Linked DNA regions of Homo sapiens. The protein of the gene in region 1 purifies or fractionates together with the protein of each later gene. This does not show direct contact. Each region holds a gene or a part of one and is shown in the gene's direction. Other genes may lie near its edges.

Region 1 (5,579 bases):
ATTATATAAATTTACAGCAGTAGTCACTTGATTCTCATGTTGTCACGATAGTCTTAAAATAATAGTTTATTTAAAAGAGCAGATAATTTGTTTTTATCACCGGGTAATTCTTCTGTTTTGCTTTTGATTTTATGTAAAATAAAACTTACCCATAAATGATGAAGATAAATACTTCTACAGACTGTTTAGAAAACAAATTTTAATTTAGTATTGTCTTGGGAAGCAAGCTTTCTTTTCTTCTGGAAAGCACAAGAGGAAACAATTTGAGGTTTTTAATGGAAACTTACATAATTGGTACATTTAGCACATACCTCTTTCTTGCTCTGTTCCTTTAACAGATTAATATCAAATGAAACAGTTTAAAGGAAAACGTATAGTTTTTTATTTTCTTTACATCTCATCAACTTACGGTAGCTCTTTCAAATGCAGTTCAGCAAGTGGTTAATTCCATCGGGGAATCTTAGCTTTCATAGCAATTTTCCATGGAATTGGGATTTTTCGTTGTTATTTCCAAAACGTAGTAAAAGTTTTAGAAAATGTTAAAATCAGTATATTCTTATAAAGTGCATATGCATTTGCTGCCTTTGTCTTCACATTATACTTGTGCCTAAAAAAGACCTGAAAAAGAATTATTTTTGTGCTGTTTTTGAAGTTTATATTAAATTTGGGGACATATACTTAGCATATATTATATTTTTCTACAAAGAATACAATATCATACAGTTTTTTGAAATGTATTTAGGAAGCGACTCCTTTTTATATATTCCATCAAGGCAACCCTTTAAATTTTTTTCCTTTGCCAAGTTTCAACTAAGATTGAGAACAGAATTATCTACAGATAACAGGGTCATGAACTCAAAATTCTCATCTACTTGATCCTCTTTTATATTGAACTGTAATAGAGGGCTAATTTCTGAAGTGACTGGGTATGTTTGCTTTGGCCACATAAAGTGGGCAGATGGAGGCATATAAAAATCTGTGGATCATTCCTCTGAACTCAAGAGAAACTAGCAATATTCTGATAGTTTTATTGGCATTTCCAGTAAGAATATTTGAAAGCCTCTGTCTGAAATTACAAAGCTTAATTTTTTTGTTTTACAAGATTCCTCAACCTCTACTTTTTACTCTATACTAGTTTCAAATTGGTTTATAAATAGAACTTAATGTTTAATGGCTATAATTTTGTTATTGGCAAATATTAAAGTGTTGTTAGCTCTACCTAATCGTGATCAAGCTCTTCTTTCACATTTGTTTCACTTTAGTTTCTTACCATTTTGGCTATGTACCCAGAATTCTTTAGGTATGCATGAACTGTTTCAGTAATGCTCATCCCCTCTTCTCAATTTAAGTTGAAAAAGCAATTTTCTCCATTTTTAAAGTACGTTAAACTGGAGCCCAGACTCCCCCCTGTGTAGTGAGTTCATAACTCTCATTAAATTAATCTGCATTTTTATTTTTCACATCCCTCTGCCTCCACTCAGACCAACCAGGGTCAAGGAGGGCCAGGGAATTGGGTTCTGGATTCTCAAGACCTTGTAGACTCCAAAGAGATGGAAAGACTGTGAAGCACAAGAAAGAGAAACCAGAACATCCACTGGAGAACTTGGAAGAGCCAGAACAACATTGTTCATCGAAGAGATCCCTGTCATCCTCTAGCTCGGGCAAAGGGAGGGACAATCCCCATATTAACAATGAGCAGCATGAAAGGAAACGGTCCACTCAGGAGAGGCCTCGGAGACCTCTGCTTCCCACGATCAGTGGTGAAGTGTTTCTGAGCACTGAATGTGATGACTGGGAGACTAAGATTAACCATCAGACTCGAAATTGGGAAAAACAGTCTCGACACCAAGATCGACTTTCACCCAAGTCCTCACAAAAAGCAGGGCTTCACTGCAAGGAAGTTGTATATGGGAGGGACCATGGGCAAGGTGAGCACAGAAAAAGGAGACACAGGCCCAGGACTCCTCCATTCTCAGAGAGTGAGGAGCAGCTCCACCTCCATGACGCAGGTAATAGAGGACAGTCTCGATGGAAGTCCTGGTATCATGTATATAACTACAAACCAATGAATTTAATAAGTACCTTAAGCAACCTTTCTTTCTCTCTAGTTCATGCTCATGACTTTGAAATAAATCCTAGAGCAACATATTATAAAAGGTATACACTTAATCTCAGGTCTGTAAGAAGAAGGAAAATATTTGTAACTTTTCCCTTCTGTGAGAATGCACTGATTTCTTGGAGAGTTATTCCATGCCCAGGTTGTATTAGAGGTACCCATTCCAGATATAGTTCTTCATTTACCGAGACTGTGTATCAGAGATTCTGATACCAAATCAAAACTCCTGAATTTCTGGTTTTACTTCAGTGAACCCAGAAGAGCTGATGAGCCTGTCTTGATAGTGTTTGTCTAACTAAAAGGCCGATAGAGCCGGAAATACTGTATTTTTTAGACCTCATCTTTCTCATTTGTAAAATGAGGAGTTGGATAGGCAGTCTTTTAAGAAAGTATTTTTCAAATAATATGCCTCAGTTCATTTTCATCAGAATCAGCTGTTAACTAACAATGGAAATGTCTGGGTTTCACATGTATTATCATCTCTGGAGTGAGGCCTGGCAGTTTGGACATGTTTTAGACCTGGAGGTGGATTCTTAGGAACTTAAAAGTTTAAAGTCATTGCATTAAGTTACTTTTTATGCTGTAACTTTCTCCAGCTCTAACTCTACAGTTGGTGTTCTAAAGTACCAATACAGGTAAGTTCTTGGTACCTATATAAGAATGAGGTAAATATTATAGATAAACCTCAAATTTCTGGCACCCCTGAGGCTTAACTCTGAAGTCCATCATTGACGCAGTAATGGCTCTATTTTCTATAAACTGCTGAGGTGATGTTTTCCATGTGTCTGTAACACTAGGAATCATAGTACCAAGGAGCCAGTCAAGCTCTATCTGTGGTCAGAGAACTTGTTTCTAGGTTGCGGATTCAGGTTAAGTTGGTTTTTCCTGTCATGTTATTTCTTATTGAAGGACTTGGTTATGCAGAAAATTAAAATTTAGTTCCAGAAGCCATTCTGAGTAGCTGCCACAAATATCCTTGTCTTAGGCTTTGTGCTTGGATTTCAGCCAGAAAGATGGCTTTGTAAACAATTCCAAACTAGATCCACTTTGTTAGGAAGACATAAAGAGCTGCGGAAAAATAGAGGAAAGTGTGATATAATCTGTCTTGAGTAGGTTTATGAGGAGGTTACACCCCTAGCATTTTGAGGTTTACAAGTTCCAAAGGTGTGGGGGAAGTATGGAGGAAGAATGATGTACACTGACCTCTACGTTTCTGCTTCTGTGAATCTGACTTTCACGAGTGCTCTGAGGGCTAGTTAGGCTTTATGGCTTTTAGTTATGCTCCAGGATATTTTAAATAGGCTGAGGAAGCATGACACTAAACGCTGACTCACAGGCTCCACTACTGGAATTGCAAATGTTTTGTTTTTTATTTTGCCAGCACAAGGGATTGAAAAACAATGTTACCAGGCGGATATTAAAACGACTACAACATGAGCTGCTGCTTTTCTATCATTTTATATTCAGCTTGCTTTTTATATTTTACCTTTCTAGCCCCCGTAGGCATTTGATTTTGTAACTCCCTGGAACAGGTCAGAGGATTACATTAAAATATAATTACTAGGTAGTGGCATCTATTCTTGCTGTTGTAAAAGCACAATTCTTAAAGTTGTTAGGACAGGCCAAACTTACATTAATAATGAAGAAACTAGCAGGATGACACGGAGCTGGTTCTAAGAGCATTTGCAGAGCAGCATTAATAGAATCAGTTGAAAGGGACTGCAAAATAAAATTTTAAATTAAGTATAAGATAACTTTCTACAGGGCAATGGGTACTTAACCTTTCGGAGTTACTTCTCTATTGGACTATAAATTCTTAATGGCTCATCATTTTCTGCAGGTTAACTTCTAAACTCACAGGGCCATAAAATATCTGCACTGTTCTGCTGTGAATTGTTAGTCAGATATACTGTGGCATTCCCTAAATGTCAGACTGGCTTATTACAAATACTCTTACATGATATCAAAAAGAATCTATCATTTTACCTTATTCCAAGCTCAGAATAAATTTATCTTGACTGTCAGTACTTTCAACAATTTTATTCTGTAAATTTATTTAAGGCTGAAGTTTTGTGTTCATTTAAGGATGTTCTTGTGTTCTCCATCTGAAGGATGATGAACAGAAAAAGACAAGGAAATGTGAAATTAAGATATATATGGAACTTGAAAATACCACTCACCTGATTTTTTGAAAGCTAGTTTCTAGAGTCTGTTTAGGATACTGAGATGAGGGAAGCTAGTCTGTTAATTTCCTTCAGTTAATTACATTTAAAAAATTTTTGGACATCTTTGTTTAATGACGGCCTTACACTGCACTGTGAGTTCTTTTTCTATATCCTTACAAAAATTTTTGTCACCTTGGGTCCAGAGGACACTGCAGAGAATGGGCATCCTGACAGTGCAGAAATTTAGTATTCCAGGCTGTGGAGATTTTCTACTTAATGAGATTTACAGATTCCAGTGATACATCAAGGGTTTAAATAAACCATTTCCCCTCTAAATATTTGGAACTGAGAGATATTACCTCAGATTCTGACTCTTACTAAGTCATCATTCTCTTTTTAACTGCCAGAGGTTACAGTCTTATCACCCTGTCAAAACAATTAGACTATTCAATGGAATATTGTCTTTGGTAGAATTTAAAACAATGTGTCTTTAATAAAACTGAAAGTGAAAAATCTTCTTGGCTAATTCTGTGGTGTACTTTAGGAGGCATAATAGTGGAGAAAATTTGGTCTCTTGAAATTTGAGCACATCCCACTGTATTATTTCACTGTATGGCAAAAGTGAAGGAGGTAGGCATGTTCTGTCATCCTTAATTAAGCTTTGGGCTGCTTATTGAAGTATCATTTTTTCTATAGATTGGAACATGGTTTATATAGCAGACTATCTTGTCCACTGACATTGCCCAGTACTGAGTTCCTTATCTAATTTCATTTTCTCTGAAATCTGCCTTCCTAGTTCTGACTAAGCTAAATAACTCAGGGAGATTTATATTCTATTTCAGATGGTCCACTCTTGGGACTATGCCACTGTTTTTTTGTTTGTTTGTTTGTTTGTTTTTGCTGTCCCAAACCACTTAGAAATCTAGATTAAGCCCAGCCCAGCATAAGACTCCGTGGCTCTAGAGTTGATTTGAAGTGATCTGTGCAATCAGGTTCTATTAGGTCTGAAGCTAAGAAAGCCATGTTTACTAGTCTGTCTTTGTAGGAAATACAGATGTGTATGAGTCTGTGGCTTCTGAAGCCGCAGAAGCCAGGTTGAAAGTTGTACAAAGGTGGGCTTCACAAAATACTTACATTCTCATCATTTGCCCAGTGTTTACTTGTATTTTATTTTTTTAAAGATTAACAGCAAGTGAGTCAAGTGTGGTGAGGGATTTTGACAAAAATCATTTTAATTTACAGTAATTTTAATGGACATAATACACTAAACAGGTGATGCCAATATTAATTGCAAGTAA
Region 2 (3,500 bases), on another chromosome or scaffold:
ACCGCGCCCAGCTAATGTATCTTGTTTTCTGAGAATTCCAGAGGTGTTGTATACTTTCTGAAGATGTCTTTCCCAGGAGTAGTGATCACCTTGCTTAAGAAGTTCTTACCTATGTCCTACTCAAATCTCTTTTACTACTGCAAATATTTTATTTTTCTTTAAAAAATATTAATAGCTCACCTTGCTTTATTTTGAATGTAGAATCACTTTTGGTGGTGTAATCTTACATGTTTTGGATTCCTTATAGGCTGATCCCAAAGTTGTCAGATGGAGAGTAAATACAAGGAGATACTCTTGCTAACAGGCCTGGATAACATCACTGATGAGGAACTGGATAGGTTTAAGTTCTTTCTTTCAGACGAGTTTAATATTGCCACAGGCAAACTACATACTGCAAACAGAATACAAGTAGCTACCTTGATGATTCAAAATGCTGGGGCGGTGTCTGCAGTGATGAAGACCATTCGTATTTTTCAGAAGTTGAATTATATGCTTTTGGCAAAACGTCTTCAGGAGGAGAAGGAGAAAGGTAATGTGGGAGTTCCACACCTGCCCCGTCCCTTTTTCTGCCAAGCCTGGGCCTTTCCTTTCATGGCATCCCTGGGATATGACCCCCAGTGCACATTGTTGGAATTTGTTTGCTAACTTAGTGCACCTGTCTCTTTGCCCCCTTTTACTGAGAATCGCTTCTAGGAAGTGTTTGTTACAAATTCCACAAATCCATTCCAGCCTTTGTTTGCATCTCTTCTTCCAGCCTTAGGGTTACCACTTCCATTTAACATCTTTTCTCCTTGCCCATCTTTGTCTCCAGTTCAGTTGCAGTGAATATGGACGTAGAATTTCAAAGTTAACTTCTCCCAACTCCATTTACACAGTATGTAATGCTGTCACATTCTACTGAAGTCTTGAAAGTATAAATTATTGCATTGGAAAACTGTAAACCAGGATATTGAGCACCTTTTTTCCTTCACACAGTCTGTCTATTCCTCTCCTTGTCCCCAGCTTTCTGTGGTCCCAGACTATCCTTCTTTAGGCGATGATCTCCTCCTTCTTCAGAAGGGAGGGAGAATCCACCTTCAGGGATTTTCTTTCCTCTCTATCTCCAGTACAGGTGACAGTATAAATTACCCACAACACAAAGATTTTTTTTACATTATTCAATAAATCACTCATCTCCATCTGAATTATCTACATTTAGTTTAAATTCCTGATTTTGTTTACTAAGAACAATTGATATGTCCCAGCTTTATGTCTGAAGAACAAAAAGGAGCTAACAGAGGAGCATATCACTCAAGGACTCTCCAAAATGAAAGTCTCCAAATGCAACAGTTTTAGGATTCAAAGTACAACAGTAGCAGCAAAAATTATAATAGCTTTTAGTAGCATTTGTGGGTGTACAACAAGGGTGACATGGCTTCTCACACATGAGTTATAGGAAGGCTAAATGAAGCCACATAAGTGATACTATGTACATTCATAATTCTATACAGATATAAACTGTTAGGTAGTTTCTAAGGCACTAAAGAGAAAGGAGTGGTGGTTTTCCCAGGCTTTAAGTTAGAAGGTGTAGTTCTTAGAGATGGCCCTTAGATGGCAGTAACTACACATGTTACTTCCAAGTAACCAACCAAAACATTGCCCTGTGTTTTTCTTATCTGGGATGAGCCAGGAATCTAGGCATATTGGCAAACATAGGCTGAGATATTTAGAAATATCTTTTATTTTGGTAATAAATCAAGAATTAATTCTTCTCTTTGACCAGGATAGAACAAAATTTCCCCTTCTACAATCTTCTCCCCATTTTGCTATTCTAATGATTCTGGGATTTTGTTATTCTGCTTAGCTAAAAAAGATCCAGTTTGGGACTAGCTTGGAAACTCAGGAGTAGATTATCCAAGGACTCTCCCAAATGAGAGTCTCCAAATGTAACAGTTGTAGGATTCAAAGTATGCTTTTGGGCCAGGCGCAGTGGCTCACGCCTTTAATCCCAGCACTTTGGGAGGCCAAGGCGGGTGGATCACTTGAGTTCAGGAGTTCGAGATCAGCCTGGCCAACATAGTGAAACTTTGTCTCTACTAAAAATACAAAAATTAGCCAGGCATGGTGGCGGGCATCTGTAATGCCAGCTACTTGGGAGGCTGAGGCACGAGAATCACTTGAACCTGGGAGGGAGAGGTTGCAGTGAGCTGAGATCACACCTCTGCACTCCTGCCTGGGCAACAACAGTGAGACCCTGTCTCAAACAACAACAACAACAAAACACAAAGTATGCTTCTTGCATGCTATACAAGAAGGCAGTTAAGTTCCTTCATAGCTCTAAAATTCTATCCACGGACATACTTAGGCCGCTTTTGAATGTAGGAAATTTTTGTGTGTCCATGCTATTTCTATTATTTTAGGAAAACAGTTTTTGTTTTATTTTTTGAACAGTTAATCTGTCATTCTTGGTTAAGTGATCCTTCTCCATTGCCATTGCATGTCTGCATGTAGAGTGCTATATGCTATTCTACTCATGACCTCACCTCATGGAAGGTAGAAGATACCTGGAGAATCTTTAATGAAGACAGAGGCAATAATTAGTAGACAGGAGAAGCTTTTGTATGAAGCAAGATGAGAAAATATAAGGACACATAAGCGTAGAAAAAGGAAGCTAAGAGAAAATGTGATCAAAGTCCACAAAAGTCCTGCAAGATTAAAATAAAATGCTGAAAATGATAAATGAAATAATCAGTAACAATGTGCACCTGATTATTAAGGCAAATGAGAGATTTATAATTGGCAGACAAGCTTGTCCACAAATATTGCATTGGTACCACAGTGTGTGAAATGAAATATGGCTGATGTGATGTGGTAGAATGGTAGGTTGATTCCTTCCGCCTCCCTTGATGCTGTTTTCTCTCCGATGCTGTGAACATAGAAGAGAGACTTTATCTGCATACCTTTCTGAAACCAATTTCATGGAACTAACTTACCATTGGAAGGTTAGTTTAACTTCTTCCTAGTGCAGAGATCCTGCTACAATATCCCTGTCAGACAGTCAACCACTTTCTGATCTTTGAAAGGTAATGACAGAGTACCTACTACCTCATAAGACAGTTCATTCTACTCTTAGCTCTAATAATTAAATCGTTTCTCTTTTTAGTAAAATCAGTGATTGCCTTGCTATTTCAGTCCAGAATTGTTCAAATTCTATCAGAAATAACATCTAATAATTTCCCAGGCCCTCTTCTGCCTGAGAGTGCCTTAAGTCATCAAACATGGCCATCTTGTTACATGGTCTTTTTAAAAATCAGGAGTAGGAGTTGGCTTTTCACGATAACATATAACCTGACCATAGACGTGGAGGAGCCCAGCCAGAGTATACGACTGCATTTTGTAGGCATTAGTGAGGAGCCAACATGCCACCCATCCATCCATTTCTTCATCCATTCAGTAAATATCCATTGAATTGCTAATAGGTACAAGGAAAGCTTTTAGGTTCTTATGATAAAACAAGGTTT

The links. Proteins that work in one complex are often made in the same cells at the same time.
Region 2: the proteins of CCDC50 (region 1) and AIM2 purify together in Homo sapiens (affinity purification with western blotting; one study listed by BioGRID). This does not show direct contact.

The regions. Positions count from the first base shown.
Region 1 is NC_000003.12:191,373,581-191,379,159, forward strand, and holds part of CCDC50 (coiled-coil domain-containing protein 50 long isoform), read left to right. Parts: intron 1-1,481; coding exon 1,482-2,009; intron 2,010-5,579.
Region 2 is NC_000001.11:159,070,267-159,073,766, reverse strand, and holds part of AIM2 (interferon-inducible protein AIM2), read left to right. Parts: intron 1-247; 5' UTR 248-267; coding exon 268-529; intron 530-3,500. UniProt on the Homo sapiens protein: Sensor component of the AIM2 inflammasome, which mediates inflammasome activation in response to the presence of double-stranded DNA (dsDNA) in the cytosol, leading to subsequent pyroptosis.